Linked DNA regions of Homo sapiens: all the other regions are linked to region 3. Evidence: fine-mapped expression QTL. A gene starts in region 3. Each other region holds a variant in brackets. All regions are shown on one strand. Distances are from middle to middle.

Region 1 (8,089 bases), 140 kb before region 3:
CCAGCCAGCTTGCATGTCTCTTCGTTCCTCCCCTGCACCAGGCTCCTTCTTGCCACAGGATCTTTGCACATGCTCTGGCTTCTGCTTGGAAAGCCTTCTCTGTCTCCTCCTCCCTCCTCCCATTCCTTGGTTAACTCTTAGTCATCCATCATCACAGCTGCAAAGTCACTTCCCTAGGGAAGCTGTCCCTTTTTGCAGGCTGGTCAGCTTCCTCGGATCTAAGCTGTTAAAAGTTCTGTGTATTTTCCCTTCTCTACACTTACCATAGTTGACATTTTATTTTTGCTCTGGGATTATTTGGTTAATGTGCTAGAATCAAAACTCCAGAAGGGCCAGAACACTATGGCTTTTTTTGTTATCACTATGTTCCCAGCACTCAGCAAAAGAAAAATAAAAAACCAGACCCTCATTGTCACCTAATGGTGGTACTGTAATTCTCTCATTCCTTCCAAATGTATCAGCTGAATTTTTCAATAAAGAAGACATTTCCCTTATCAGCTCTTCCGTAACTGTGAGGTACAGTTTATACAAGAAAAGCAGAATAAATGCTTGAATTTTCCCCTTCTATTTACCAGTTTTCAGAATAATCAGAGGTGACAGACTCCTCCAAAGGTAACAAATGAGTTTGGTTTTACCGTTTTGAGTATTATGAATTCATGGATGTATACATGTTGATGTGTTTCAGTCCACTAAAGTCATTATTCTTTGGGATGCTCAAATTGTCTCATTGTTGGCCAGTAGAAGCCTGGGCCCTTTTGCCATGACCTCAGTTGTCTTTAATAGCTGTCCGGCTTGTATGACAAGACATTCTTGGATCCCCTTGTACAGCTCCTGACACCAATCTGGTTCAGCTATTTCTTCAAGAAGGCCTGGTTCCTTGTACATTCTTATTCACCTGTGGTTTCAATTCCCTAGTCTCTAAAAGAAACACTACAAATAGAAATTCTGTTCTGATTTTTCTCCTGTACAGCGGACCTGTATACCTAACAGATGACTGGGCATTGCCATCTCTGCCCACAACACACATCCTGAATTTGACTTGTTTGCACATGAAGTCATCATCCCTCCCCAAGATGGGCTCTCTATTATGCCTTCCTTGGGGATCAGTACTTGGAGTCGGGTCAGGGCAAGATACTGTTAGTGACATGTGGAATTCAGCCACACCATCATGAGAAGGTCCTCTCTGTGTGTTCTGGCTAAACCAGCCTTCTACCAGGTTAGCACGATTCTGGGCTTTGCAACATTCATGACCTGTTTGAGGGCACTGAAGGAGATGCTCAGCCACATCCCTTAATTTGCATGAGCCTGTAGGAAAAATATGTTTAAGAAGTCTGGCTGTCTGAGCAGGCCAAAGGAGAAGATGGAAGAGAAGGTGGTTTCCTGAAAGCATGAAGCTGTATCTGTTCATATTTTGACACCATCCCAGGAAGAAGAGGCTGAGGTAGGAAAGTACAGTCAGCTCTGGGAGTTCCCTCTGGAGAAGCTGGCTATGAGACGTGGAAGAAGCTCCCCAGCTGCAGTAGAAGGCACGAGAAGGTTTCAGGCTTTCCAGGTGGGCGTAGAATGGGCAGCAGCACAGGCATAACCTGGAGTGGCACAGGTGCCAGGGAAGAGGGCAGACGCCATGCGTGACATAGCAAGGGGATCACACCGCATCCATTGTGCATGAGACCACTTTTCACCACCCAGGCGACTCAAGGAGATAACTGGATGGGTGGTTCCAGGAAAAGAATGGACATCCTGCTAGGCCATCATATGCTGTCTCAGAGCACTGAGGTTTGATAAATGTGGTGAATTTGGAGGCACTCACAGCTGAGTCCCAGCACAGAGTGGGCACATAAGCAACACCATTTTCTCATTGCCCAAGCCAGCCCCTGCCCACAGCACCTCCACTTCCCAGAGCCACACCCAATCAATGGCCAACTTATGATTCTAATCTTGAATGTCTGTCGAGATCTTTTCCTTCTCCATCACTAAGCTCTCTCCTTTAAGTAAAAATTTTTCTCCTGGAGGAATGCCTCCTGGCTGATGCTTCTGCAAATCACCTCACTTCTCTTCAAGCCCTCCTCTGTTACAGACTATTCCAAATTTTTTTTTGTTTTTTTGTTTTTTTGTTTTTAACTTTTGCCTACCTTGTCGGCTCACGCCTGTAATCCCAGCACTTTGGGAAGCCGAGGTGGGTGGATCACCTGAGGTCAGGGGCTCTAGACCAGCCTGGCCAACATGGTGAAACCCTAGCTCTACTAAAAATTCAAAAATAAGCCGGGTGTGGTGGTGGGTGCCCGTAATCCCAGCTACTCAGGAGGCTGAGGCAGGAGAATCGCTTGAACCCAGGAGGCGGAGGTTGCAGTGAGCCAAGATCGAGCCACCGCACTCCAGCCTGGGTGACAGAGTGAAACTCCATCTTAAAAAAAAAAAAAAAAAATGCCTACCTAAATCTAACGTAAAACTTTGAGCTCACTCTGAAATATATTCATATTTACTTACAAGGGGAAAATGCCCTATGAACTGAAAATTATGTGTATTTTAGAACATACACAAAAGAGAAGTTAAAAGAAAATGAGAAAAATAAATAGATGTGATAATACTTTATTTCATTACTCCGATTAATAGTCTTACCAAACTCACCCGAAGACTGCCTGCAAAGTTCTTGAAGGAGCTTGGGATTGTAGGTGCTTTTGATGTTTTATTCAGACTGGACTAGATGCTTTAACCCTGAAGGTGCATCTTACGTATCTAAAAAAGACTTCCCTTAGGGCTAAACATAACAGAAAAGTGATGAATGAAGGAATCTGTCCAACATGTCATCTTTGATTGAAGATAAATACATTCATCTTATGGTTCTAGCTCTATTAAATTGAGTCTGTTTAATACACCCTGTCTGCAGCTAAACTAATTATTTCAGGCTGGATTTTCAATTTCTTACCTAGCCCTAGGATAAAACACAGAGTTGAATGGTTACGTAATCACCAGGTGCCGCTCAAGTGGTGATTTTTCAAATCAAGTATGGATCTCAAAGAAGAGAAGCAAATAACAACAGAGATACTTCTTGTGCTAGGGCCCTGGTTGCAGGACGGTGTCCCACCAGGCTACAGCTCTTAAATGGCAGAGCTGCTGCTGACACCTCTGTCGTTCTTGCAAGATCAAATACCAACTGCGTTGACTTCAAATCTGGCTTAAAAATAGGCCTAGCAGGCATAGTTTTCTCATCAAAACAAATTAGCCTAAAAAATAGCATTCCGAGAGACCAAGGGTTAGGAAAATTGTCCTGTGAGTGTTTTGAATTCTTTGTCACCCTTCATAACTGGTGCCGTTCATGAGGGAGCTTATTGGCTTGGGGGATGACAACTTGAACAGCAAAACAGGATGTGTCACCACCAGGCCCCCTGCTCTGCTGCAATCTACGAGAATTAATCAGTTTTGGGTTTTTTTGTTGGTGGTGACGGTGGTTTTTTTCCTTTCTTTCTTCCTTTTTTATGTCAGCGTCTCAGATGGGCA[C/G]ACACTGAAACAGCTTCTTATTTGCATGCGGTGTGGCCTGGCGAGGGTGAACTGAGGACACGCAGAGCTCCCTCTGACTTGGCACCGGCAGGAAGTCGGCGGCAAGAAGCTACCACTTTTCAAGCCTGGGTGGCTTTTTCTTTTTTCTCTGTCATTCATTTTGGAAGAAAGCATAAGTTTGATTTCAAACAGAACACAAAAACTTGGAAGGAGGGCCAAACACAGGCAGGCAGATGATTCTTGTCCCCACTTTTACTTTTTTAAAATTTAATTGGAGATGCTGCAGAGGTGGCAGAAAGGGGCCAGAGGATGGTAGGTGCAGACTCGCTGCGGTGACAATGCCCCGGGCATCCCCTTTCTGCACAGTGGGGCACGGCATCCAGGGGCAGCCTCCTCTCCAGACACCTGGGCAAATCCAAATCTGTGTTTCTTTGTCATTCACCTGAGGAGAAGTCCCTTATTCCAACGACCACTCCCGTGTGAGCGGTGACAGGTTTGAGCAGAATGAGTCAACGCTGAAATGATGCCTGTGCCATTTCACAGGAATTTGCTTCTTTCTCGCTGGTTTTCAGATGCAGTTCGAGGCTTCCGTTTTTTTCTCTGGATTTGAATCTCGTCCACAGATCACTGCTGCCTTGCAGCTGAGTGTGTCATTTGCAGCCCTGCTGTCTGGGGCCCGAGACTCCACACAAGATGTGCTCAGAGAAGCAAATGAACAACTCTGCTCTGATAGGGGCAGCAAAGAGGCAAGCAGCTACCAACAGAAGGACACTGAGTTTCTGGGGGTGGCATCTGGCCAAGGTTCCTGTCATCTCTCTCAGATAAAACACCAAATTCTTCCCCAACAGAAGCAGCAAAAACATATAATATAGGCCAGCGCAGCGGCTCACACCAGTAACTTATGCCTTGGGAGGCTGACGGGGGAGGATCACTTGAGGCCAGGAGTTGGAAACAAGACTGGGCAGTATAGCAATATCCTGTCTCTACAACAAAATTTTAAAAATTAGCTGGGCATGGTGTTGCATGCCTGTAGTCCCAGCTACTTGGAAGGCTGAGGTGGGAGGATCACTTGGGCCCAGGAGGTCAAGGCTGCAGTGAGCCATGATTGCACTACTGCATTCCAGCCTGGGTGACAGCGAGACCCTGTCTCAAAACAAGACAAACAAATAAACAAAAAAAACCATAATGTAGAGTATTTATAAGTTGCCTTATTCCAAGGAACAAAAAATGGTGGGAAACTATGACAGTATAATATGGTATGTGGTAATATTTAGCTATGTCTAAAATGTCACTTTGATGAGCAAGTTTTATCATTTTTATACTCATCCTAAATTATTTGTTTCCAAATCAGAGTGCAATGGCCCTTGGGAACTGGGAAAGAATGTCTTCCCAGACCTGGAGGAAGCTCCAAATGACTGGATCCTAATGATTCTACAGGTTCCTGGCTTTTCCCAGCAGTCCCTGCCCCCTGAGTCACCCTTCCTATAAATATCCCCATCCCACAAGATAATGGTCTTTTCAAATTTCATTAAGTTTTTGTCTCTTACCAAATTGCTCTCTATACTTTTAACAACGTTTCATCACCTGAAGAGCTTTACGGGGTTCGCTAACCCCCTTGCCTCCTCACTAGCTAAATATCTCATCTCAGATATCCCTTGAACTTGTACCTCTGCAAAATTAAAACGACTACATACTATGGAACGTCTTGAAGGTCAACACCAAAATACCACATCCTTTGAAGGGCCAAGAGTACACGCTAACCTATGTCGTAGGACAAATTTATAACCTGGTGATCCAGAAAAGGACCATCCTCTAAGATGGGGGCTAACCTGGCTTTCCCCTGTGTGGTCATAATACCTGGAAAAGACATGATTTGAAAGGTGAATATATTTGAATTGCTACAATAAGCCACAATCTAACAAGGGTCCATTTCTATTGGCCATGGAGCTTCCATTTCATTGGGATTTGCCACTCTGGTGATGTCCTCTTACCCAACTGACCCAAAGACTTTTAACATCACACTTTTTTTTTCTGGGCTTTTAAAGCAAGTTTTTGAGGCCAGAGTAAATCATGATAGGCTGTACAAAAGTCTTTACCTGGAAGCCCATCAAATATATATTTCTATAAGATCTGTTTTTATGTTTGTGCAATCAGCGTGTGTTGGCTGGAATGAATTCTCTATTTGTTTGTCATGTGGAAGGATAACCCATGACAAGCCAGCCTAGCAAAGTGGTTCAGTGTGTTGGGTTCTTTGGAACCACATAGACACTTCCAACCTTATCCTGCATTTAGCTCTTTGACCTTAGGCAAATTACTTTATTATCTTTAGCCTCATTTCTTAATTTGTGGAGTGGAGATAACAAGGCTCATAGGGTTGTTGTGAAGATTATGTATTTAAATTGTGTAGCCGCAGTGCTTGAAACAACCAATAAACAGACGATTGAGAGAGAGAGAGAAGATAGATGGATGGATGGGTGGATGAACAAATGGATGGAAGGATGCATGGATGGATGGGTGGATGGATGGATGGATGGATGGATGGATGGATGGATGGATGCATGGATGGATGGATGGATGGATGGATGGATGGATTAATGGATGGATGAACAGATGGATGGATAAGTAGATAGATGTATGGATGGATGGATGGATGGATGGATGGATGAAAATGGATGGATGGATGGATGGATGGATGGACAGATGGATGGATAAGTAGATAGATGGATGGAGAGATAGACAAATAGATGGATAGGCATCAGCAAAAGAAGAGTTGCTACTTCTGGGATCTGATACTGAATGACTTGAGACAAATCTTGTGATCTGCCAATATCACAGGGTCATATGGAGCAACTTTGCTCAGATATTGGCAGCAAAAGGCCAGCAGGCACAAACAGAAGGACACTGACTTTCTGTGGGTGAGAAAAGGGGAAAAGAGAAAAGAAAAAAGGGGAGTGGGGCTAAACAAATTAAATGATATTTAAGGTCATTTTCAATCCCCTGATTCTGAGAAAACAGGACTCTGAAGTGTTTGAGCACACTGAGAAGGGCATTTTGTTAACGACACTACTGTTTATTTTTGACTGTTTAACTTTCACCACAATACACTCTTTCATGTAGATTCCTCTTTGCCTTTTTTCTCAGTCTAATTCCTTGAATAAGAGTCCTATGTGAAGACCTAGGCTTGACTAAGAAAGCTTGTCTTGCAAGCAGGCTAGTCTGTATTGCCTAGTCTCCTGAATTATCTAGAAATGGCTTTTGTCTGCTATAAGCAGAGACCCAAAGTAAGCATGGCTTAATCACATTATGGGATGACTTTCTTTCACATGGCATGGTCTGAGGAGAGATGACCAGGGAGCATAGGAGGGCTCCACATTGTCAGCAGGAACCAGGTACCCTATATCATTCTGCTCCACCACCTTCGGCTGTGGGATTTTGTTCTCCAGAACTCACCTCATAGGCACAAGATGGCTGCTGGAGCTCCAGTCATTCCACTTCTTTGCAGATACAAAAAAGGAGAAGACAGAAGTACAAAAGGTCACTTTTTCCAGCTGGGTCAGCCACCTTCACAAAGCCTTCCCAGAATCCCATCCAGTGACTTCCACTTACATCTCCTTGGCCACAATTCCAGCAAGGGACACTGAAATATAGGCTTTTAGCTGGGCACGTGTTCACCTTCCTGTGATAGCAACAGTAGGGAAGAATGGATATTGAGGAGGCAAGTAACAGCCTCTGATACAGCTCCTTCCCCGAAAAGCCCTTGTAAAAGGCCGGGTACCCTGTGACAGGTTCTCCACCTTGCTCCATGGGCAGCCTGCATCCCTGCCTACCCCTTTCCACTGTCTTTCCTCCTCCCTGGTTCTTATAAGCAATCCTAGCTCCTCAGAGGCAGCCCTCTAGCGAGGCTCCATCTATAGAGCTTGACTTTAGACTTGGCCAAGCTCTGCTTCACCTAAATAAAGGCATCATCTCAATACTCTCTAAACTCATCCTCCCACTCCCAATGGGAACAAGCACATGGAAACAAACGCAAGGGGAGGGAGAAGGCGGTCTCTATCCTTGCTTCCGGGATGGCATTTCTACCAGTGTCATCACAGTCAAACATGGGTGGCAGTTTCCTTTTCTTAGACCTCCCTCAATGTGTGACATGCCCCATGGCCCTTTCATAACTAGGAGGAAAAGTCCACATCTTGCCAGTGAAGAGGAGGCCACAGCCTCTGCCAGGGGCTCCCTTTCCCCTACCCAGGAGGTCACGATGAGATTGGGGATCGCAAAGCCAATGCTGCTCTTGCCCACAACCCATCAGAGTCCTCTCTTGCAGGCTTTGCTTTGGCATAGGGAGGGTGCCTGCTTATTAAGCATCCAGATGAGCAAACTCTGCCACTGCAGTTCTCCACCCAGCAGCTGGGAGCCTGACAGCAACCAGATGGAACCAGGCTGGGCAGGAATAGGGAGGGGCAATTCCCTACAAGGCTGGCCCAGAAGACATGGCTGCAGAAGACTGCTGGCAAGTCCATAGCTGAAAAAGATCCCATGTCATACTTTGCTGCAGAGTGCTCTCTGCAGAGTCCCCGAATCACATTGTAATAAAGCC
Region 2 (8,101 bases), 71 kb after region 3:
TATATAAATGAATTTCTTTCTTTGTAGGGGTAAATGGGCTCAGATGGCTCAGAAAAAAAATACGCACTCGCACATGATACACACACACAGAATGATTTAGCAAATACATAGACAACTGGTGAGGAACAATTGGTCAGTGTGGGAGAAGAGGATAGAGGTGTTTTTCAGTTTGAAATTGTTTCAAAATAAATGCTTTCAGGGCCGGCATGGTGGCTCATGTCTGTAATCCCAGCACTTTGGGAGGCCAAGGCAGGCAGATCACCAGAGGTCAGGAGATCGAGACCATCCTGGCTAACACGGTGGAACCCCATCTCTACTAAAAATACAAAAATTAGCCGGGCATGGTGGTACACGCCTGTAGTCCCAGCTACTCAGGAGGCTGAGGCAGGAGAATCATTTGAACCAGGGAGGTGGAGGTTGCCGTGAGCTGAGATCGCACCACTGCACTCCAGCCTGCGCAACAGAGTGAGACTGTGTTTCTAAAACAAAACAAAACAAAAAAAATGCTTTCAGGAAAGAAGAGACAGCTGTGCTAATTTACATCTACTGAACTTCAATACATGTGCAATTTAATGCAGGGGATGTTCGTTTACTTTCTATTGCTATGTAGTGTTCTTTTTTTAAAAAAACAAAAAAACACACACACACACACACAGAAATTTTGTGGTTTAAGCCCCACCCCTTCATTAGCTCCCGATTCTGAAGGTTAGAAGTCACACTGCCTGCCTGTGGCTCTGCACAGACCTCGCCCAGCGGAGATCAAGGTGCTGACTAGCTGAGTTCTCATCAGGAACCTCTGGAGAAAACTCCACTTCCCAGCTCCTCCTTGTGGGCACAATTCAGTTCCTGTGGAGTGGGAATAGGGTCCCCATTTCCTCGCTGGCTGTCAGCGGGGTCACTCCTAGAGGCCACCCTCGTTCCATGCCACGTGGCTCCTCCTTCCGCAGGGGCAAGGGCAGGTTGGATCTTTCTCGTGCTTTGAACACTGATGTCTTCTTCTGGGTCCTGCAGGAGAAAGCTCTCTGCCTTAAAGGACTCCGGCCCCCAGCAATCTCCCATCTTACAGTCAACTCATGGGGACCTTAATTCCATCTGCACAGCCCTTCCTGGCAGCTCCTAGGTCAGAGCCGAGCTGAACACCTGGGAGGAGGCGCACACACGGGCCCAGGAACCTGGCAGCAGGCTGCTGGTGGGGGGCATGGGCTCCCCAAGGGCCCACGGTTGGCCTGGCCCAGCCCTAGCACAGCTGGTGTGCTGTGTGCACTCTTTCTGTCATCCTCCCCTCAAAACGCAGCTCCTACGTGCTGCCCTGGCTCTGGGGAAAGGTGATGAATTATCCTTTCTCCTCCATTCAGCTGAAGTTTCAGACATCAGGATTTCTCTCTAGGGAGAGGCTCTTTTCTTCTCTGTGGTGATGTCCCCGACAGAAGAAGAAGAGCGTTGTGTTGATTGTCCCGCCGTCCTGGCAACTCCACAACCAGGGGAGCAGGACAGTGCCCAGGACCCACAGGTCGGGCAGCCATCCCTTCCTTCATAAGGAACGAGGGGCCACAGGGAGGCTGTAGAGTCCGGGAAAGGCTCTTGCCAGCTGTTCACAGCGTCACTTGGGGCCTCCACAGCCCGCTGAGCCCAGGACAGTGTCACAGGGGAGACGGAGGCCCTGAGGACCCCAGAGCCGTCAAGCACGCTCAGCTGTTCCCTGTCCACTCTCAGAAAGCCCAGCCCCTGGCAAATATGCAACAGGTTTATTTTATTTTATTATTTTTTTTAATGTTGCAAAGAACCTTCATATAATTTTTTCCATAGCATCCTGACAAACTCTGGATTCAAGCGGAGGCAGCATTCACCCATTTCTCTGCCGACAAAGCTGGCCTCGGCCAGGGTAGTGACTTGCCCGGATTGCTCAGCCAGACCAGGGGCAGAGCCCCAACACCAGGTCTCCTGGCCGGCGCTGTGTCTCCTCCCGCCTCCATCCTCATCCGAAGGTTGGGACGTCACAGTCCTTGGAGGCTCGCTTAGCTGGGAACTGAGGACCTTCAATTTCAATGTACTGAGTCTTCATGACCTGCATAAGGCCGAGGAGCCTGGCTGCCTCTTTCCCAGAAATTAGTCTCAGTCTCCTGGGCCAAGTGGTTGCTTTCTACTGCATTGCGCTCCTGGAATCCTGGAATACGCTGCTGAATTCTGCAGAGGAAATCAGAGTCATGGTGACTTCAAATTAATCACATAAGCACTCCCAGAGAGAAACGGGATTCTCTGTGGTGGGGCTGCACTTTGCTTGTAATGAGGACGCTTTAGAGGCCAAACTAAACCAGGCGGGAGAGCCAGGCCGTGGGGGCGGGGCGGGGCCTCTGCTCCGGGCACTCCCTTCCTCCACCTGTTTCCTCACCTGTAACATGCAGACAGTGTTCATCAGTGGCCAAATGTGAGGAGCAAATGCCCTTTTTTTTTTTTTTTTGAGACAGTCTCGCTCTGTCACCCAGGCTGGAGAGCAGTGGCACAATCTCAGCTCACTGCAACCTCCGCCTCCCAGGTTTAAGCGATTCTCCTGCTTAACAAAATAGGATTCTCCTGCTTAACAAAATAGATTTTTCTCCAGCTCAGGCTGGAGTGAATTGGCGCAATCTTGGCTCACTGCAACCTCCACCAGGTTCAAGCGATTCTCCTGCCTCTGCCTCCCGAGTAGCTGGGATTACAGGCATGTGCCACCACACCCGGCTAATGTTTGTATTTTTAGTAGAGACGGGGTTTCACCATGTTGGCTAGGCTGGTCTCAAACTCCTGACCTCAGGTGATCTGCCTGCCTCAGCCTCCCAAAGTGCTGGGATTATAGGCGTGAACCACCACGCCCGGCCTGCACCCAGCCTATTTATTTATTCTTAACTTTAACTTTTTTTGCAATAAGCCTTTTGCAGTCCTACATTTATTTATTTTTAACTTTTATTTTAGGTTCAGGGATACATGTACAGATCTGTTATATGGGTAAATTGTATGTCACAGGGGTTTGGCGTACAGATTATTTTGTTACCTAAATTATAAGCATAGTACCCAACAGGTAGCCTTCTTTTTTATTATTTTTTTTAAATTTGAGGCAGGGTCTTGCTCGGTCACCCAGGCTGGAGTGCAGTGGCATGATCATGGCTCACTGCAGCCTCTACCTCAGGCAATCCTCCCACCTCAGCCTCCCTAATAGCTGGGACCAAGGGCATGCAGCATCACATCTGGCTAATGTTAAGTTTTTGTAGAGATGGGGTTTCGCCATGTTGCCCAGGCTGGTCTCAAACTCCTGAACTCAAGCGGTCTGCCCTCCTTAGCCTCCCAAAGTGCTGGGATTGCAGGTGTGAGCCGCCGCGCCCGGCTGACAGATAGCTTTTTGGTCCTCACCCTCCTCCCACCCTCCACCCTCAAGGAGGCCCCGGTATCTGTTGTTCCCTCCTTTGTGTCCTTGTGTCCTCAGTGTTTAGCTCCCACTGA[T/C]AAGCAAGAACATGCGGTATCTGGTTTTCTGTTCCTGTGTTGGTTCGCTTAGGATAATGGCCTCCAGCTCCATCCATGTATAACTTTATTTTATAATACAGAAAACATCGAACAGTCATTGTTAAGGAAAACTTTGATGACTGTTCCCATTCAGAAATTTATTTATTTAAATGTCCTTGAAATTTTTTCTTTTGGAGACAGAGTCTTGCTCTGTCACCCAGGCTGGAATGCAGTGGCGTGATCTCTGCTCACTGCAACCTCCACTCCTGGGTCCAAGCGATTTTCCTGTCTCAGCCTTCTGAGTAGCTGAGACTATGGGCAGGCGCACACCGCCATGCCTGGCTAATTTTTTTATTTTAGTGAAGACAGGGGTTCACCAGGTTGCCCGGGCTGGTCTCAAACTCCTGAGCTCAGGCAATCCGCCCGCCTCAGCCTCCCAAAGTGCTAGGATTAGAGGCATGAGCCAACGCACTTGCTGCCTTAAAATTTTTAAACTGCATTTATAATATTAATACTTTATACTTTTAAATACTTTAATTTATTCACAAGCATTCTCAAGTGCTTAACAACTAACTCTGGCGAATCTCTGGTTTTTTTAAATGTTCCCATACTGCCTACAATCTTAATAAATTGGCGTTGAATATCTGAGTTTAAATCACAAATCTATATCAATTACCCAATCACATATTTTGAATTGGAATCAAGAGGCCAGTCCATTCATTGCATTTAAAATTACAAGTTAAAATATGCCACATCCTCTTAAAACAGCAACTTCTTAAAATATCAAATATGTAAAGATTGCCTAAACGTAACCCCAAAATATCAAAAGTATGAGTTGGTTTCACACTCCTCTGTGTAAACAGACTTTTCCAGGGTTAAGAGAGACTTATCCGGTAAAGAAACAACGATGTCATTACCAGCAAGTCTGGGGTCCTGTCCCAAGGAACTGAAGTTGCTTATTGACCGGGACAACCCCTGCTCAGGACCCAGAATTGAATTCTTGCCTGTAAAAGGGACAGAAAATACGGAGGCCTGTTGGAGCTCTTATAACAGGAGCTCCTGGCCCCCCACGGGGAAGGGGTCCCCAGCACGCTTGCTTCCAGACCTGCTGACTCTCCTTCGAAGACCATGGTGGTCTCAGGGGGTCAAGAGCCCACCCGTCCAGGTGCCTGGCTGGTTGGCTTGGGACACCCCTGGCCCAGTCACACCTCAATTCAGGTGACAGTCCAGGAGCTGTCAGCAGACCCCCTCCTGGGAGTGTGGAGAATGAGCATTTCTCTATCCTTGCCAAAAAGCAATCTCAGTTAGGGCAGATGCAAGAAAACCACATCATCTTTCTCTCCCTGTGGGGCAAGAGCTAGCTTTATTAATTCTGGTGTACAAATTAGTCATTGCTGTCATTCCAGCTAAATCGAGGTCAGCTTTCTCCCAATTTATGCTGAAATTAGCAAAGACCCTTCTGATTTGACAGTCAAATGGGAAGGGAATTGATGGATCCCAGCACAGAGGTTGAAGGTGAGAGGCTGCAGGCATCCCAGGGTGCCCTGCGCTTCTGTTGCAGTCTTTTTTTTTTTCTTTTTCTTTCTTTCTTTCTTTTTTTTTTTTTTTTTGAGATGGAGTTTCACTCGTTGCTCAGGCCGGAGTGCAGTGGCATGATCTCGGCTCACTGCAACCTCCGCCTCCCAGGTTCAAGTGATTCTTCTGCCTCAGCCTCCCGAGTAGCTGGGATTACAGGCACGTGCCACCACACCTGGCTAATTTGGTATTTTTAGTAGAGATGAGGTTTCCCCATGTTGGCCAGGCTGGTCTCGAACTCCTGACCTCAGGTGATCCACCCCCACCCTCAGCCTCCCAAAGTGCTGGGTTTACAGGTGTGAGCCACTGCGCCTGGCCTTCTGCTGCAGTCTTGATGCCACGTGCTTTACTCCCTGTCTCAGAGAAAGAAAAAATTTTTTTGCTCTTTCCCTAGAAACCAAGAAAAGTAGGTTAATCAGACAAACAAGTGGTAAAGATAAAAGACTCCCCCGCTCCCCACTGACCGCACCACACACACACACTCACAATCACACAGACACACACACACACACACACACACACACACACACACACTCCTCCAGGTCCTGGCTCTCCTCCTACTGCCCCAGCAGCTGAGCCTGCAGCTCTCCCTGCTCCCACCTCCACCTCAGGGGCTTGGACTCCTCTGCCCTCTGCTCACCTTCCCCATGGCTGCCCAGTCATCCCCAACTGGCAACATTCACTGTGATGGGAAGGGCACAGGCAGCTCAAGACTAAGTCGCTTCAGGAAGACGGGAATCCCCCTGTTCACACCACAGAATGAGGTTTCCTGTGTGCAGAGGAGGAGGAGGGCTGGGAAGAAGAAGCTGGAGACAGGAAGGAATGACGTGCAAATGATGTGAAGAGAAACGACACTTCTAAGTCATCAAGAACAGAGTGCTAAGGGGAAAGAGGTCTGTACTAGAAAATGAAAGATTTGGATTACATGGAGAAATTTTCTGAAAGTGAAATCTGTTACAAATAGATTTGGCTGGCCAGGCGTGGTGGCGCACGCCTATAGTTCCAGCACTTTGGGGGGCCGAGGCGGGCAGATCGTCTGAGGTCAGGAGTTCGAGACCAGCCTGGCCAACATGGCGAAATACTGTCTCTCCTAAAAATACAAAAATTAGCCAGGTATGGTGGCACACACCTGTAATCCCAGCTACTCGGGAGGCTGAGGCTGGAGAGTCACTTGAACCAGGGAGGTGAAGGTTGCAGTGAGCCGAGATCGCGCCATTACACTCCAGCCTGGGTGACAGAACAAGACTCTGTCTCAAAAAACAAAACAAAACAAGAAAGAGAAAAAGAAAAAGAAAAAGAAATGGCTTCTGGGATATAGGATCTGCAATGCATGAAACCACAGCCTGGCTTTCTGTCCCAAGCTCCTGCGCTGCCGTCTACACTCCTGGTTGTTCAGGCCCCTCCTAACAGCTGTGTGTGCATGTGTGTGCATACCACGCAGATTGCGTGTGGCTCTGCATGTAGAAGTTCAGGCATCAATAACAGGACTGCTGGAATTATTTTAGGTAGGGAGGCCTCCTCAGTGCACCCCAAATCTCACCCCCTGGGAAGATCACTAAGCTGTTAACATGAAACCAGTGTTGACTGAAAAATGTTCATCAACTTCACCTAATGGTTTTTGCTGATGGGGTAGAATCTTATCTTTCGAGTGTGTTTGCACCCTTCAGAAATGCTTTCGGCTACATGTAAATGAGAACCTGACTCATGGAGGCTTAAACACATTGGGATTTGTTTTTCTCACAAAACAGGAAGGTCTGGAGGCAGCAGCAGTTAATCCTGCTTTGAAGGCTGAATCATGTCAAGGACAGCCTCTGTAGCTCCTGCACCCTCTTCCTCAAGGCTGCAGCTGGGCTGCGGTAGTGGCATCACGCTGCATTTGGGATTCGGGCAGCAGCGTATGTCCCTTTAATCCGGAAGGCTCAGCACTCTCGGAACTCCTCCCCACCCCCAGTGGATGTCTGCTTGCGTCTTCTTGATTAGCTGCAAAGTGGTGCTGAGAGAGAGCAGATGGAACGTTTCTGAAAAGTTAAATACAAGAAAGGGTTTGGGAATGTGAATCGGGTTGGTCTTTTCCCAGGTCAGCCCCAGTGCACCTCTTTCTAGAGAACACACTGCCCCCGCCAAAGGCTTGGAGGGCCACCCTCAAGACCACCTGAGCCATGGCATCCACCTTCCCGAGTCCTGCATATCCAGATGAGGTGCAGGCGTCCGCCTGGGGTCCAGAGGGAGCTCCTCATGATCCCACCAGCTATAGCCCAAAGACTTGTAGTCCATCATCAACACATGCAGTAAGGAATGGTGGAAGAGGAAACAGACCATTGCAATACAATCCCCCTTCAGAAACTCAGAGGATGGGAAGACAAAACGAGTCACACGCAAGATCCCGCTGGAAGGAGCAGTGAGGTCTCCCTGCCCTGGCGATACAGCAAGCTCCCCAGTGAGCCAGCCTGGCACCTCGTATCAGACCTTCCCACTGACTTCTCTGGTCTCTGGGAGGGTCCTCCAAGACCTCATCCAAGCAGGGCCCTGGGCGGGACACCCCTGATGGAGAACATAGGGTTTTGCAGTTCAGTTCTTGAGTATGGGTTCAGGGGCTGCAGATGGCTTCACGGCCTGAACAGACAGGGGCTACTGCTAGCCAGCCTGAGGGCTGCTTTGTTCTTTGTTGCTGTTTTTGAGATAGGGTTTCACTCTGTTGGCCAGGCTGGCGTGCAGCAGTGCAATCATAGCTCACTACAGCCTCGACCTCTGGGGCTCAGGTGATCCTCCCACCTCAGCCTCCTGCATAGCCGGGACCACAGCAGGCATGTGCCACTGCACCCAGTTAATTTTATTTTTTTTAGAGATGGGCTCTCACCGTGTTGCCCAGGCTGGTTTCAAACTCCTGGGCTCAAGTGATTCTCCCACCTTGGTCTCCCAAGGTGCTGGGATTACAGGAGTGAACCACTGCACCCTTTGGTTTCTTGGACAATGTAATTACCTTACACATCTAGCTGTAAATTCCTGGTCTATTCTGTTTGGTCCCATGCTCAAGCAGCCATAGCAAAGGCCT
Region 3 (8,101 bases):
AGCTCCTAACCGCGAGTGATCCGCCAGCCTCGGCCTCCCGAGGTGCCGGGATTGCAGACGGAGTCTCGTTCACTCAGTGCTCAATGGTGCCCAGGCTGGGGTGCAGTGGCGTGATCTCGGCTCGCTACAACTTCCACCTCCCAGCCGCCTGCCTTGGCCTCCCAAAGTGCCGAGATTGCAGCCTCTGCCCGGCCGCCACCCCATCTGGGAAGTGAGGAGCGTCTCTGCCTGGCCACCCATCGTCTGGGATGTGAGGAGCCCCTCTGCCTGGCTGCCCAGTCTGGAAAGTGAGGAGTGTCTCTGCCTGGCCGCCCATCGTCTGGGATGTGAGGAGCCCCTCTGCCTGGCTGCCCAGTCTGGAAAGTGAGGAGCGTCTCTGCCCGGCCGCCACCCCGTCTGGGAAGTGAGGAGCGTCTCTGCCCGGCCGCCCATCGTCTGGGATGTGAGGACCCCCTCTGCCTGGCTGCCCAGTCTGGAAAGTGAGGAGCGCCTCTTCCTGGCCGCCATCCCATCTAGGCAGTGAGGAGCATCTCTGCCCGGCCGCCCATCGTCTGAGATGTGGGGAGCGTCTCTGCCCCGCCGCCCCATCTGGGATGTGAGGAGCGTCTCCGCCCGGCAGCCACCCCGTCCGGGAGGGAGGTGGGGGGGTCAGCCCCTGCCCGGCCAGCCGCCCCGTCCGGGAGGTGAGGGGCGCCTCTGCCCGGCCGCCCCTACTGGGAAGTGAGGAGCCCCTCTGCCCGGCCACCACCCCGTCTGGGAGGTGTACCCAACAGCTCATTGAGAACGGGCCATGACGACAATGGCGGTTTTGTGGAATAGAAAGGGGGGAAAGGGGCGGGGAAAGATTGAGAAATCGGATGGTTGCTGTGTCTGTGTAGAAAGAAGTAGACATGGGAGACTTTTCATTTTGTTCTGTACTAAGAAAAATTCTTATGCCTTGGGATCCTGTTGATCTATGACCTTACCCCCAACCCTGTGCTCTCTGAAACATGTGCTGTGTCCACTCAGGGTTGGATGGATTAAGGGCGGTGCAAGATGTGCTTTGTTGAACAGATGCTTGAAGGCAGCATGCTCGTTGAGAGTCATCACCACTCCCTAATCTCAAGTACCCAGGGACACAAACACTCTGCCTAGGAAAACCAGAGACCTTTGTTCACTTGTTTATCTGCTGACCTTCCCTCCACTATTGTCCTATGACCCTGCCAAATCCCCCTCTGCGAGAAACACCCAAGAATGATCAATTAAAAAAAAAAAAAAATTTTTTTTAATTAGCCGGGTGTGGTGGTGCACACTTATAGTCCCGGCTACTGGACAGGCTGAGGCGGGAGCATCACTTGAGCCCAAGAGTTGGTGGTTACAGTGAGCTATGGTCGCACCACTGCCCTCCAGCCTGGGTGACAGTGTGAGACTCCACCTCAAAAATGAATAAATAAATAAATAAATAAATAAATAATAAACCTCAGGGAACTCTGCTGCAGACCTCCAATGAGAAGGCCACTTATAAAGGTGGCAACAAGTTTAGGAGAAAGAAAACCCACCCAGCTGGGCGTGGTGGCTCATGCCTATAATCCCAGCACTTTGGGAGGCTGAGGTGGGCGGATCACTTGAGGTCAGGAGTTCAAGACCAGCCTGGCCAACATGGTGAAACCCCGTCTTTACTAAAAATATGAAAATTAGCTGGGCATGGCGGCGTGCGCCTGTAATCCCAGCTTCTCGGGAGACTGAGGCACGAGAATCGCTTGAAACCCGGAGGCAGAAGTTGCAGTGAGCCGAGATCGCACCACTGCACTCCAGCCTCGGTGACAGAGTGAAACGCCATGTCAAAAAAAAAAAAAAAAAAAAAAGGAAGAAAGAAAAACCCACCCAATGTCCCAAATGCCATTAGAGAATCGAGGGAGGGTGTCAGGAAAGATACCAAATAGAAACACCTTCTTCCCTCCATTCCAGTAAGAGTTAAATGTGACTATATAAACTGAGAAAGACACCACCACTTGAAATAAGGATGTGCGATACCCAGGCTGCGGATCTTTTTACAAGAAGGAATGTGTCTGAGACTATACCTCAAAGCCACACAGGAGGATACCAGCAGTAGGCGGGACAAAAGAATTAATCCATTGGCTTTAGCCAAATTCCCACCCTCCAGCTCTGAATGATTCTGACAGGGATTCTTAGGCAAATCTCTCACTGCGTGTGAGACGTGCAGGTTGATGGGGTCTAATGGATCAGGATCCAAGCCTGGAGGGAGGACGCCTTGGTGCACGCTGGAGTTCTCAAGATCACAACTGAGCTGATGCCAACAGATCTCAGAGCCCTGGAAGTCACGGGACACTCCTCTCAGACCCGTGGGCATTCGTATACAATCACATGTATTTACATATGTGGGACTAGCCTCCAATGCAGTTTACAAAGTGCTATAGAGATAATACTTGCTTTATGCAAAAGTTGTTTCTGCATTTGGCCTTGGCCAAACCTCCCTGGGGATTTAAGAGCTGCATTCCACTCCACTTACAGGTTTTACACAAAGACAAGAGAACCATGGGCCACCCCAGTTCAAGCGCATCTGACTGGGCTGGGCAACACACCCACATCCCCCAGTCCTGGGCTACCTCACAAAGAGGGGGAACAAGACCTCTCCTGAGGGCTACCCCAGAACCCTGAAGTCCACCAGGGTGGATCTGCTGACGTCCCCACCCAGGGCACACCATGGGGGTGGGTGTGGGGAGAGGGGCAGGTCTGGACGAGGCCGGTGATTCAGACCGAGCAGGGCTCCAGGAGAGCTGCCAAGTCCCGCGGGGGCCGTCCTAAGAAACGTAGTAGCCGGGCAACCCTGCCTGCCAGCCGCCTGCGCTCAGGCGCCTTCGGATGACCCGAAGCCACCTCGAGAGTTTGCACCTGGATCCCACGGTCACTACTCAGGCTACGACCTGACCTGGGCAAAACCGCACCAGGCGGCTCCCTGTCCAGCCCATGGGAGCCGGGGCGCATTACCTGGAGAGGCAGCGTCGCCCCTCTGCGCTGCCCACCCGCCCTTTTCCGCGGCGGCGCTCCGCAGCTGAGGTGGAGCTCGAGGTAACCCTCTCCCAAGCGATCGCTGGTGGCGGGGGCGGCGACCGGCGGGGCGGGGCAGGGTACTGCCAGCCAATTCCGAGCACCGGGGGGTGCGTGCGCCCGGGGCGCGTGGAGCAGCGCCAACCGTGCACTCACCAACCCACCGACCCTCCCCAAAGCCGGGGACACAGGCGTGGCTCCAGGTGGCTCTCCTGGCGCCCCCAGCACGGGCGCCCCCATGGCACTGGAGATGCACGGAAGAGAGAGAAGGAGAGAGAAAGAGATAAAAGCAGAAAGAAACAGTGGGAGAGGAAGGAGGTAGAAACAGAGAAAAACAGAGACATATATATCGAAAGAGAAAACAGGACAGAGAAATAGGTTATTAAGTGAAGCGAGGGGATAGGAATGCATAGCAAGGCGGGAGAGGAGATGGAAACATGCAGAGAGAGGAGATCCGGACGGTGAAAAGGGGCGGAGGCGCGAGCGGCCGGGTCCCTGGGCTGCGCTCCGGCGACGGCCGCCCGAGACGGGTGTCGAGGACAGGGATCGCGGAGGATGTGGATCCCCTCCCTGGCCTGCCCAGGCGCGCGCGTCCCTCCGTCTCGGGGTACGCAGCCCGGCCGGGCGCACTCGCCGTTTCCGGGCCGGCGGGGCAGCCACCGGGACAAGGGCCACAGCGCCCCCGCCGCCCGGCCAAGGACGCGCAGCCCGCGCCTCCGCCCCGCCCCGCCGGCGCGACCCGCACGGGCGCGCCCCCCGCAGAGGGGCGTCGGCACAAAGCCGCCCCACACAATGGCCCGGCCCGGCGCAGCCCGCCCTGCAACCCGGCTCCGCGCAGCTGCACTCACATCTGGGCAACGAGGGCCTGTGGTCCACGGGCACCCAGATCTTCTGCACTCGGCTCTGCGTCAGTTCCAACGGCATCTTCGCGGCTGCGCCCGACGGCCCGCCTCCCGGGGCCGAGATCCCGACGCTGGCAGGAGAGCGGCCGCCGACCCCCGGAACAAAGGAGGAGAGGGGGGCGTGCGCCGGCGCGCGGCCGGGCGTTTCCTGCGCTGCCAGGGGAAACGTGCTTTGGGCTAAGTTCCGGACCCTCGCCTGTGCGGGGCTCGACGTGTGCTGCGAGGGTAGCGAGGCTGGGGATGCCCGGCACGGCCGGCTCGTCCGCTCGGAAAGCTCTGGGATGCTCGGGCGCAGTGACAGCCGCGCTCTCGCCACCAGGCCCTGCTGCTCGCCTCCTCTCCGGCTTGGCTGGGATGCCCCGCGCACCGCCGGCTTTTAAAGAGTCCGGGCTGGCCGCAGACGCGTACGTCAGCCTCGGGGCGGGCCGCATTCCTTGGGTCCCAGCCCCCTTCCACGTGGGGAGGAGGGTGGGCGAGCCGGGAAGCAGCCTGCGAGCTCCCCCTGCGGGCCGGCGACGGCGGTGCACCAGCTCCCGCCGCCCTGCCCCGGGCCTGGAGCGCGCCCAGCCCTGCTGAAGGGTCCTGGCTGCTGTTATCCCCTCGTCCCGTTGTCCCCTCGGGACGTCTGGCACAGCTTCCCCGACTAATTCCGGCCCCTCACCTCAACTGTGCTGGCCGGGAGGAGAGCAGAGACGCAGTCCTGCCCAGTGTAGACCGTGGACCCCGCAGCCGAATCCCTTGGGAAGCTGCTTAAAGTGCATCCTACCAATGCAGCTCCTTTAGGGCCATGGAGCCCCAATACTCTGCATTCCTAACACGCGCTGTGGGGCAGGCGCAGTCCAGGTAAGGACATGGGCCAGGCTGCTCCCTGATAATACCCGTGAGCCCATCCCCCGCCACGACCCGGGCGACCCGCGGGGAGGAGGCTTCCCTGATCCTCCCACCTCACCTCGTCCTTGTCCACTTTGCTGAATCCCTTAGAAACCTGGACTTGAACTGAGCCTTGCTCCCCTCCCCTAGCCCAAAGACTGGGAACCTTGAGAGGCCCGCGGTGCTGGGTACGAGGAGGGGGCGGGAAAGCCCCGGGGAGCTGGACTGAAGTGGACTGGGGCTGGGGGCAGCTGGCATCTGGTTTTCACACTCACCATGTACACCATTCAATAAACCTTTATCGCCCCGAGTAGAAGAATGAATAAAACTAGACCCATTTCGATCTGCAATTCATTACCTAAGTCGAGGGAAAACTATTGGGGGCGGCCCCTTATTAGGCAGACTCCTAAAATTCACTCCGTTATCCTGCACACCCTGCAGCTCTGCCTCCCCACTTTTTGGTGCATGCGTGCCCCGTCTCCTTTCCCGGCCCTCGCAGTTTGCACCAGCTCGCGACTTGTGACAGTCGTGCAGTCAGGTCAGAGGCGTGCGGGGAAGATCTGGGTTGCTTTTGGTGGGGAACCGCCGCCCGCGCCGGGACGGATGTAACTTTTGCAAACGAAGCCTCAGTACGGGAGCGCTGCGCCGCCTTGCAGAGAGGTGCACACTTAGCGCTGAGGCTGGGCTGTGATTGGAGGGAAGGCGGCGCTCGCTGAAACCTACACCGCGGCGGAAAAGTCTGCGCAGAGGCTGCCACACGTCGCTCACGTCCCGCATGCTCCACAGGGAGGGCGCCCGCGCCCAGGCGGCGACCGGGGCTGCTCCCGCCCCGCGCGCCCGCCCCACCCGGGCCTCCACTCCTCCCGACCCGCCGCCTGCCGAGGGGCCCCGGAACGCGCAACATCGGCCACCTGGCCTGTGCCCCGCCACCCTCCCCCACGCCTCGACCCCCACTCCCCCTCCCGCCTCGACCCCCACTCCGGCACCCCGCCCCCCGCGCCGCCCTCTCAGAGCCCCTGTTCCCGCGACAGCTTTGCTGACGGTCTGGTTTCCGCGCTCTGGCGGCTGTTCAGAAACCCGATGCGTTGCATTTGGACTTGTTTTCTGCAGTGGGAGCACATGCCAGAGGCGACACCCTAAACGCCCAGGGGAGAGTCCCACTCCACTCCTGAAATAAGAGTGGGCTGACCCGAAGAGGGAAACAGCAGGCAGCGAGCGCCCGCGCCACCGGGACGAGTTCCCGCCCTGGGGTTCGCGGGGGTCGGGGAGGGCTGTAGGCTGCGCGCGGGGAGAGCGGCTGCACCCCTGCAAAGAGCGCCCGCGGTTCCTGGGGAATGACGGTGCACCTGCGCGCCCGCTGCTTGCCCACCGATTTTGCACACGTACAGGCGAGGCAAGCGGACCAGGGGGCCTTCTTCCACACTCCCTACAAGCTTGCAAACACTGCTGGTTTCAGCTCACAGGGAGAGCAGAGAGACGGCGTCTGCCCCAGCAGCGGCACATCATTCATCTCTTGACCTAGATAACGCATCTGACAGCGGTCAGCTCTTAGGGCACAGGGAGTTGATGTCCCGGAGGTCCAGCTGAACTTTCGCAGACCGGGCACTTTTCCTGTCTGTCAATAACGCGTTCCGAGTCTAGAGGGAAGACTATGTTCTTCCCCCATTCGCCTCCTGCACTTGCTCTGCAGCAGGCAAAAGGAAGTTAACTCAATCCCCGCCCCACCACCACCCCCCGCCCCCCCCCCCCCCCCGCTCCTTACATCTAAGTGCAAACTGGGAGTGCGTGGGAGCAAGGACGAATGCACACCTGTTTTTGTTTTTTTAATGGCCAGCTAGAACTCCTGGCAGCCTTTACAGCCCCAGGTAAGTTAGGGTAGAGCCCTCATGAGAGATGAAACTGCTTCACTACAAAATCACTTATAAACAACCCAACTGCAACTGTATTCTGGTAATTTACTGGTTCCGAGTTTACTAGTTTGGACATCCTCCTAACTCATTCCCTAGCTCTGCTAATGCCCCATCTTCACCCCAAATGTCCAACTAGGGCTTGGCCAACTTCCCTCCTACTAACCTGGGTATCACAAAGGCGGCCCTTCAGAAAACGCTCCCAATAACGTAAATGTTCCTCTAATACGATGATTCTTTTACAGCTACAATAACACCAAGGCTAGCGCAGATTGATGATTTCTCCTAGGTCGTGGTCCTAGAAACTATGAAAGATAGAAGGAAACTTCAAGACTACCTAGTCAACCCCACTTGCTTTATGGGAAGAAGTAAAGGGAGTTGAGATTAGAGTAGTCAAGGAACCAGGTCAGAGATCAAAGAAGAAAGCCAATTAGGAGCAGAGTTTGCTGGGGTTTTTGTTGGTTTTGTTGGTTTGTTTTTGTTTTTCCCTTCTGCTTGACACGGACGCAGATAGCTAGCTCCCTAGGAGACTCATTATAGGGCCACCCTAACCCCAGGGTGCTGAGTGGAATCCTAATTTAGCCGCTGATCAGGCTGTGATTCAGACTCACCTAGAACAATTGAGCTGTTTGGGAAGGAAAGGTCAGAGAAGGACCTTCCGTGAGTAGAATGAGACATTAGCAGGGCAATTATTGAAAATGATCCTGGCCAGTGCAGTGGTTCGCACCTGTAATCCCAGCACTTTGGGTGGCTCAGGCGGACGGATTGCTTGAGCTCAGGAGTTAAGAGACCAGCCTGGGCAACATGAAACCCCATCTCTGCAAAAAAAAAAAAAAAAAAAAAAAAATTTAAAAATAGCTGGGCATGGTGGCTCGCACCTGTGGTCCCAGTTATTTTGGAGACTGAGGTGGGAGGATCACCTGAGCCCAGGAGGCAGAGGTTGCAGTGAGCTGTGATTGCACCATTGCACTCCAGCCTGGGTGACAGAGTGAGACCCTGTCACAAAAAAAGAAAAAAAAAAAAGCAAGTGCCTGGTGAGGTGCTCACATAGCTGAATTCACTGAGCTCGGTCCAGCCTTGAGAGGACAGTGGAGTGGTTTTTCTCCAGGATCACCTTTGTTCCCACACTTCTGTGCCAGCCAATGTCATCTAACTCCTACCAGTGCTTCCAAATGCTGCTGTAACAACAAACACAAGCAACCGCATTTCCGTGATCCTGTGCCAGCCATAGCCAGGTTAAAACGTTCAAACCAAGCTAGGACCTACCCGCTGCCCCAGAGAGAGTGAGGTGACAAGCATGGTAGTCTGGGAGCAATCAGAAGTTGCTCATTAGACACCAAGTGTCACTATTTGCTCTTGAGAAAAATCCCATGT
Region 4 (8,101 bases), 70 kb before region 3:
CCTTCTACCAGGCCCCACCTGCAGCACTGGGGATTACATTTCAACATGAGATCTGGGCGGGGACACAGATCCAAACTGTATCACATACAATATGATTCCATTTATGCAACATTCTGAAATGACAAAATTACAGCAATGGGGAACAGGTTAGTGGTTGCCAGCAGGTGGGGAGGAGAAAGGAGGGAAGGTGACTTGAGGCTCTAGAGGGGTAGCATGAGGGAGCCTCCTGGTGATGGAGCAAAATCAAGATATATCTTGATTTGGGTGATGGTTATAAGAATCCACACATGTGATAAACCTGCCTACAACTACACACACACACACACACACACACACACAAATACATATAAAATGGGAAATCTAGGTAGGTTCTGTGACCCAATCTCAATATCATGGTTGTGATATTGTACTGTAGCTATGTAAGATGTCACATTGGGAGAAACTGAGGGAAGGGGACAAGGACCTTCCTGCACACTTTTTGTTTGCATCATCCTTGAATCTATAATTATGTCAATTTTTTTTTAATTGAATTACTCCTCAAGTTTTTTCCTTTATTGGAGGCTATTTAACCCCACTTGCAGCTGCAACATCTCAGCTGTTGCCCAGAGAAAGCGAAGTTCATTGGTACTTGGCCGACCCCAAATTGGAGTTATTGTAGCTAGTAGTTAGATAAGGCCAGCAATTAATCTGTAACTATCCTGTCTGCAGCTAAATGATAGTCTCCCATACAGAGATTTCTCTTTTTGGCATTTTTTGGTTTGTTTCTTGGGATTTTTTTTTTTTCTGAAGCATGGCCCTTTTATGAAATAGATCCATAAACACATTTTCCACTTTCATACATTTGCTAAGTTATGATCTAAAATATTTTTATGACACATACATATAAATAAACAACAACCCCTCCCATTCTAGGCCATGTTTCTGTTTGAAGAATTATCCCATTTGTTATCCTATTTCTATAGCATGCCACCCATGAACCTGATTCAAAGGCCAAAATCCCACAAAATAAAGATAGCATTTGGCTGATAATCCACTCCAAGCAAACAAAGCCTTCTCTTGGGTCAGTAGAAGTTTTGGTTCTGTTTTTACCAAAAATCCTCTCATTCCCTAAAGACAGACTCTGTCTTTACGCAGTCTATTTGTCAAATACAAGGTGCCATGAATTGGGAGACATCTTGATTTCAAGCATGAAATAGCAAGCATATTTCGAGGAATGAGATACTCCAGCATGAAGAAAGCCTGTCTCCGAATGGGTGGGCTGCAGAGGGAGCACCACCCTCCACATGGAGAAAGCATAACCCCTGCGTGTATTTGAAGAGCCATATACCCCTTAAGCCATTAAAAAAAAAATGTTTCATTCTTGATGATGTAATCCTCTCTATGAAAAATACAAAAATTAGCCGGGCGTGGTGGCCCATGCCTGTAATCCCAGCTACTCAGGAGGCTGAGGCAGGAGAATCCCGGGAAGCGGAGGTTGCAGTGAGCCAAGATCGCACCACTACACTCCAGCCTGGGTGACAGAACGTGACTCCATCTCAAAAAAAGAAAAAAACCCACAAGATCCAAACCAAGGTTTCCCTTTTGCACAATAAGAACGCGTGTGGGGAACAATTGTGTGGTTCTTTGCACTGCCCAGATGAGCTCATGAGAAAATTCCCAGCAAGAGCAGCGCCTGGGTGATGGCGGTGAGTCACCGGCAGAGGCCTGACTCCATCACAAGGCTGGGGACAGCGTTCCCGGCATGCAGTGTCAGCTACTTCCTGGCATGGAGTGTCAGCTACTTCCTGTCTGAGTCAGGCGCAGGCCCCGAGGGTGGCTCCGCTGAGGGAACTGGCACCTTCTCCACACACCTCCTTCGCCGAGTCACAGACAAGCTATGCAGAGAAATCTACCGGAGCCACGGCAAGGCTCTGGAAGAGGACAGAGAAGGGAGCAGCTTCCAGAGGCCACATCGGTTTGTCGCCATGACAACAGAGGGGCGGGGCCGTGACCACCTGCCCCTGGCACAAGGCCCCCAAGTGCCGAAGGGTCACTGAGTCTTAAGCAAAGAGCAAGAGGCATCAGCCTCATGGGACAATCCACCCAGAGTCGCCTAACCACAGACCCCAAAAGTCCCCTAGTGGACACCACCCAGTCCAGGAACAGATCAAATTCAAGAATATGTAAACTTGGGTGGGAAAAAAAATCTTTTCCTCCACTAGCCAGGAACTAATATTTAGCATTTTCATTATGAAGATAGGCAGCATACCACATGAGCAGCCTCTGTGTCGGTCACCAGTAAAAATCATAATATGTTCATGGCACATGATGGTTATTGCAGTTTTGTTTTTTGTTTTTTTTTTGAGACAGAGTCTGGCTCTGTCACCCAACCTGGAGTGCAGTGGTACCATCACAGCTCACTGCAACCTCGACCACCCGGGCTCGAGGGATCCTCCCACCTCAGCCTCCAAGTTGCTCGGACTATAGGCGTGTGCCACCACACCCAGCTAATTCTTTTTAGATGGGGTCTCACTATGTTGCCCTGGCTAGTCTCAAACTTCCGGGCTTAAGCAATTCTCCTACATCAGCCTCCCAAAGTGCTGGGGTTACAGGCATGAGCCACCACACCCAGCCTGTTGCAGATGTCTTGAAAGAGTATTTACCCTTCATCTCTACTGTGAAATTACGGTTGTTTTCAGACTTGCCACTATTGAATGCATTATTAAAGTGGTACATATATTTCTACATCGTAAATGTTTATATTTGGCATTTTGATATCAGTATTTCAAGAGTTCTCTCCTTCGTAATCCAAAGTGTGTTATTTTTTAAATGTAAACATTATTCTAAGAAGGGGCTCAGGATCAACCCTGGAGGACCAGAGGGGCTACAGCACACACAAAAAAGCTTCAGTACACTGTATTAGTGTGCTGAGGATGTCGCAACAAAGTACTTCAGATGGAGGGACTTACACAACAGTTTTTTAATTTTTTTTTTTTTTAGAGATAGGATCTCGCTCTGTCACCTAGGCTGGAGTACAGTGCTGCAATCATAGCCCACTGCAGCCTTGACCTCCTGGGCTCAAGCGGTCTTCCCCTTCAGCCTTCCAACTAACTGGGACCACAGGTAAGTGCCACCAGGCTCAGCTATTTTATTTTTTGTAGAGACAGGTCTCCCCATGCTGCCCAGGCTGGTCTCAGTCTCCTGGGCTCAAGTGATCCTCCTGCCTCAGCTTCCCAAAGTGCTGAGATTATGGGAATGAGCTGTCGCACCGGCCCACAACAAAAATTTATTTTCTCCTGATTCTGGAAGGTGGGAGTCCAAGATCAAGGTGTCGGCAGGACTGGGTCCTTTGAGGCTG[C/T]GGGAAGGAGCTATCCAGGTGTCTGTCCTTGACCTGTAGTCAGCTGTCTTCACTCCCTCTTCTCATCACCTTCTCTCTGCATGTGCCTGTCTCCAAATTTCCCTTTTTTATAAGGACATCAGCCATACTGGATTAAGGCCCATCCTAATGACCTCATTTTAACTTGATGGCCTCTGGAAAGACTTTTCTCCAAATAAGGTCACACCCTGAGGTGCTGGCGAGTAGGACTCCAACGTGCTGTTTTTGGCAGGGATGCAATTCAGTCCTTAACATACTCCAGTCCAATCTCCATGCTTTCCTTAGAGAACCCTCAAGCCCAGAGTGACTGACAGAACTGTCAACAGAACACAGGTTTCCCGACAGCCCCCTCAAGGTTTGAAGGGCTTTATACACTGTAAAGGGCCGTGCGATTGTAGGTTGCATGGCGGCGGGGATCCCTTAAAGAGCAGGCGTTCTCGGGAAGGCAACGCTTTTCACCCACGGGTGGCAAGCTCCTCGGGCCCCAGAAGAGGAACGGGGAAAACTCCAGGCCTCATTTTTGTTTGTTTTACTTTTGGTGGGCAGCTGCTTCTAGTCACATCTCTAATTTCACGGCCATCATGAGAATATGGATCACATCTGTGAGGTGGGCCCAGCAAACCCCGTCTCTACTGAAAATACAAAAAAATTAGCCGCACGTGGTGGCAGACACCTGTAATCCCAGCTACTTGGGAGGCTGAGACAGGAGAATTGCTTGAACCCGGGAGGCAGAGGTTGTCGTGAGCTGAAATCATGCCACTGCACTCCAGCCTGGGCAACAGAGTGAGGCTCCACTTCAAAAAAAAAAAAAAAAAAAAAAGCCTGCAATCTCAGCCCCACTCACTGCACAGGAGACATGTGAACACTTTAGGAGAATGGGAAGTATTTTCTTTTCCTTTATTTTCCTCTGAGACTTTCTCTATAAATCAAGCCCTCAGGCCTATTGTCCAAATCTGAAATAAAGCCTGCCTCCTCCATCTGACCCTGTTCTCAAGAGACCTGAAATGAAATCTTCCCACATAGCCCTTGGCATGCACAGATCCAGGATATGGAACAGGGCTGACGGAAACTCATGAAAGCACAGCGCGGCTGGGGCCCAGGTCGACCTATTTCTTTTTTCTTTTTTTTGAGACAGAGTCTCCCTCTGTCACCCAGGCTGGAGTTCAATGGCACGATCTGGGCTCACTGGAACCTCTGCCTCCCGGGTTCAAACAATTCTCCTGCCTCAGCCTCCCAAGTAGCTGGGATTACAGGCACCCACCACCATGCCCAGCTAAAATTTTTGTATTTTTAGTAGAGACGGGGTTCACCATGTTGGCCAGGCTGGTCTCAAACTCCTGACCTCAGGTGATCCGCCCGCCTCGGCCTCCCAAAGTGCTAGGATTACAGGCATGAGCCACCGTGCCCAGCCAGACTGACGTATTTCAACACGTTGGCCAGAATGCATAAATCCAAGGCATCATTCAGGGTTTAGTTAAGAAACCCCGATGTCCTAATAGGGCAATTGGAACGATCACCTTCACTAGACAGCCTGGAGTCAAGGGAGGGACACAGGAGACCATTACCTGCAAGTCCTAAGGGACAGAAGGGACATTTATCATCTCCCAGCACTGCCTTCATCAGCCATTCACCAAACTAGACAGTTACAGCCCCTGTCTGTGAACTCGGGGTGCTTTGCACTTGTTCATAACATACAACATACATGCACAATGGCAAGTAAGCACGTATGTAATGCTTCACATCTGCCCTCCCTGCTGGATGGCAGCCACCATCGGGGCAGGGGCAACTGTCTATCCCACCCTCTGGTCTATCCTCAGTGCTAAGCACAGATTCCCACACATGGTAGAGATTGGTAAATATTCCCTAAGTAAATAGGTACCTGCCTCTCCCACTTCCACACCCACCCTCTGATAGCCTATTGCCCTTTTGCAATACTTCTTCCCATTCAAGGTTGAACTAGGATTCATTTCAATTTAGCTTTAAAAATATAAATACATGCCCACAGTGTGGGGGAGAAAGCACACACAGATACCCATAGGCTCCACCCTCCACCCACGGGAGAAGGCGCTGTGGCTATTTGGGGTCACAGTATCCTGTTACCTTTATTGAACATTCACTTTTTATCAAAGGTCTGAGGTACACTGTCTCATTTATTCTACACAACCTTAGTTAGAGACTCATAGGCTTGGGGCTTGAACATCTTGTCCAAGATCACACACCTAGAGAGTACTGAACCAGGACTGGAGCTAAAAGAGGTCTGATTCAAACACTGGGCTTCATCAGCTCCCTGTGCTACCTGCCCGGAAGTGGCTTCATTACTCTCAAAGAATTCGGCTTCCCAGCCCTTCCGCAAGCACTGCTACCAGGCTCTTCATCCTGCCATTCAATAGACACATCTGAAGTTTGACTTCCCGCCTCTTGGCTCCCACACCCCCAGGAGGCAGCTGTCAGAGTCCTTCAGTGGCTAAAGGAACGTAGCCTGGGCCTCCCAGGCATCACACACGCACCAGGAAATCATAAATTGAAAGGTAACGCTCTTCGGTTCTCGTCCTTACCTTAGCAGAGGTGTTGGAACAAGGCTGACATTTACAATGCACAGGAGCTTGGCTACTTCAGCAATTGCATGGCCACTGGTGTTCTGGAAGAATCCATTTAAATGCTAGACACATTTTCTCTTGGCACTTGAAACTAGGTTCCAGACGGGGGAAGTGGTTGAATACTAATTACTTGTAGCAAGGCCATTGGAAGAGCATCTTTCACTTTCTTTCCCAATTTCAATAATCTGTTCCTGAATGCTTCTTATCCAAACCCACGTTTCAGAAAACAAGTTTAAGAACTGGGAAAATCTACAGTTAGGATGAAATGAATAAAAATGTCTTTCCTTCATTTATTTGGCAAATATTTAGTGGGTGCTTACTATCCCAGGCAGGGGGCTAGATCTTGGGAAGAGAGTGCTGAGTCAAAACTGGCCCAGTTCCTACTCTCAAGGTGCTTAAGTCTAGTGAGAGAACGGGCATGAAGCAAATAATGACACCAATAAAGGTGAAACTGCAACTCTGGGTGTCCTACAAAGGAGGCATGTGGTCCGATGAGCGCATGTCATAGGGCCTAATCTAGCCCGGAGGGTGGGAAGACTCCTTGATGCCATGACACCATCTGATGCATTAGAAACCACCTGGTAAAGAGGGAACCGGACCCTTACTATCCAGAGGAAACAGCAAGCACAAAGGTGTTACATGGGAGGGAGTGTGCAAAAACAAGAGTTCAAGAAAGCCTCTGTGGCCGAGGAGTGTAGGCTGAGCTGAGGCTAGAGAGACAGGCAAGAACCAGATGCCCCAGGACACGGTGAGCTGTGGTTAGGACGTGTGTCATTAAACGCAAGAGCAACAGGAAACCATTGAAGGGCTTTTAAACCTTGCATGACACAATCAGTTACCTCAAAAATATTCCTCTAGTTTCTTGGTAGAAGAATGAGTAATATTAGGTAACTTATACTTCTCATATGAAATGGGAAAAAGAAGGCATCATTATCTCCGTGAGAGATTTGTGGAGAGGGAAAGCAACTGGTTCCGGGTCGTAGCTCACCAGAAAGTAGAGCACAGAATTCTTGTCCCATGTTCCTGAGTCTTAAACACCCATATTCTTTTGTTGTTGTCGTTGTTGTTGTTTTGTTTTGTTTGTTTGTTTTTGAGACGGAGTTTTTGCTCTTGTTGCCCAGGCTGGAGTACAATGGCGCGATCTCGGCTCACTGCAACCTCCGCCTCCCGGGTTCAAGCAATTCTCCTGCCTCAGCCTCCCAAGTGGCTGGGACTACACGTGCACACCACCACACCCAGCTAATTTTTGTATTTTTAGTAGAGAGGGGGGTCTCACCATGTTGGCCAGGCTGGTCTCAAACTCCTGATCTCAGGTGAGCCACCTGCCTCAGCCTCCCAAAGTGCTGCGATTACAAGCGTGAGCCACCACACCTGGCACCATTTTCAAAATAAATAGATAAAACTGTGTCAGATAGAGTCACATCATATGGCCCTCTTCATTTATGCATTCTGACATGCTGACTTCTGAAGTTGTCCAGGTACAAAATAACTCAGTCAGTGACCAGAAATATGAGCCATTTAATGTCTACCCCTGGGAAGAGTTAAGTCTTACTGCCTCCTCTCTCCACACACTAAACCAATTTCTCTTCCCATTTCTCCACCCTAAGTCACTTCCACTTTCCTAACTGCAACGTCTTACCTATGGCAAAGCCTATATTCACTGCATTTTCCCCATGGCCTCATCACACAGATAACAGACCCCGGAATCTGGAAAAGGGAAAAAAATATATGTATGTGTTGCTCCTTAAGACAAGACCAAATCATCCTATCCAGGTGCAGTGGTGCATACCTGTAGTCCCAGCTGCTCAGGAAGCTGAGACAAGAGGATTTATTGGGCCCAGGAGTTCAAGACCAGCCTGGGCAACCATCTCTGAAAATAAATAAGTACATAAATCATCCTAGATCACTGAGTCTATAATTCAGTCTTAAATTTGTTTAGGAAAAGTTATTTATGTTCTTGGTATCTCAGTATCTTTATCTAACAGCTGAAAAAAAAAAAACGTAAAAATAATCTGCTTGGGCATATAGGGAAGTAAAAATATACTGAAGAATCGCCATTCAGGGAAGATGAAGACCCAGGGAGGGGAGCCCATGTTGACAACTACTGTTTTAAAAAGCAATTGTCATTTCTACATACTAGCAGTAAATA

Which allele goes with the higher level. Positions count from the first base shown, and alleles are read on the strand shown. Sizes are in standard deviations (SD) of each study's normalised expression. Not every link is listed here.
As copies of C replace T in region 2, the expression in testis of the gene that starts at base 4,301 in region 3 goes down (moderate effect, 0.53 SD a copy in GTEx).
For the expression in amygdala of the gene that starts at base 4,301 in region 3, allele C in region 4 goes with a higher level than allele T (large effect, 1.3 SD a copy in GTEx).

The links. PIP is the estimated chance that this variant, and not a neighbour inherited with it, causes the effect.
Region 1: its variant is fine-mapped to the expression of PFKFB3 in CD4 T cells (BLUEPRINT, PIP 0.95). The same link has a PIP of 0.9 or more in monocytes.
Region 2: its variant is fine-mapped to the expression of PFKFB3 in testis (GTEx, PIP above 0.99).
Region 4: its variant is fine-mapped to the expression of PFKFB3 in amygdala (GTEx, PIP above 0.99).

Annotation. Positions count from the first base shown.
Region 1 is chr10:6,343,640-6,351,728 of GRCh38, reverse strand. LINC02656 (long intergenic non-protein coding RNA 2656) reads right to left here and starts at 1,413. Exons shown (of 1, transcript NR_148966.1): 1 at 1-1,413. RefSeq lists a cis regulatory region at 3,219-3,719. The variant C/G (reference allele first, on the strand shown) is at 3,499.
Region 2 is chr10:6,127,767-6,135,867 of GRCh38, reverse strand. All of the region lies in intron 1 of LOC101928080 (a long non-coding RNA gene), which reads left to right. Among named protein-coding and RNA genes, the nearest start is that of MIR3155A, 20 kb to the left of the region's middle. RefSeq lists enhancers at 638-1,185, 1,186-1,734, 5,671-5,750, 5,761-5,840, 5,891-5,940. The variant T/C (reference allele first, on the strand shown) is at 3,475.
Region 3 is chr10:6,199,132-6,207,232 of GRCh38, reverse strand. PFKFB3 (6-phosphofructo-2-kinase/fructose-2,6-biphosphatase 3) reads right to left here and starts at 4,301. Exons shown (of 15, transcript NM_004566.4): 1 at 3,897-4,301. The coding sequence starts at 3,972. It overlaps PFKFB3-AS1 (PFKFB3 antisense RNA 1), which reads left to right and starts at 4,476. Exons shown (of 2, transcript XR_007062045.1): 1 at 4,476-4,793. RefSeq lists enhancers at 2,330-2,832, 4,572-5,076, 5,631-6,147, 6,148-6,665, silencers at 3,149-3,228, 3,459-3,968, 4,089-4,198, 4,249-4,578, 5,609-5,828 and a cis regulatory region at 4,107-4,638.
Region 4 is chr10:6,269,077-6,277,177 of GRCh38, reverse strand. It overlaps a transcript of PFKFB3 not described here. Among named protein-coding and RNA genes, the nearest start is that of LINC02649, 53 kb to the left of the region's middle. RefSeq lists enhancers at 1,484-1,923, 2,074-2,183, 6,467-6,516 and silencers at 5,006-5,206, 6,646-6,846. The variant C/T (reference allele first, on the strand shown) is at 3,338.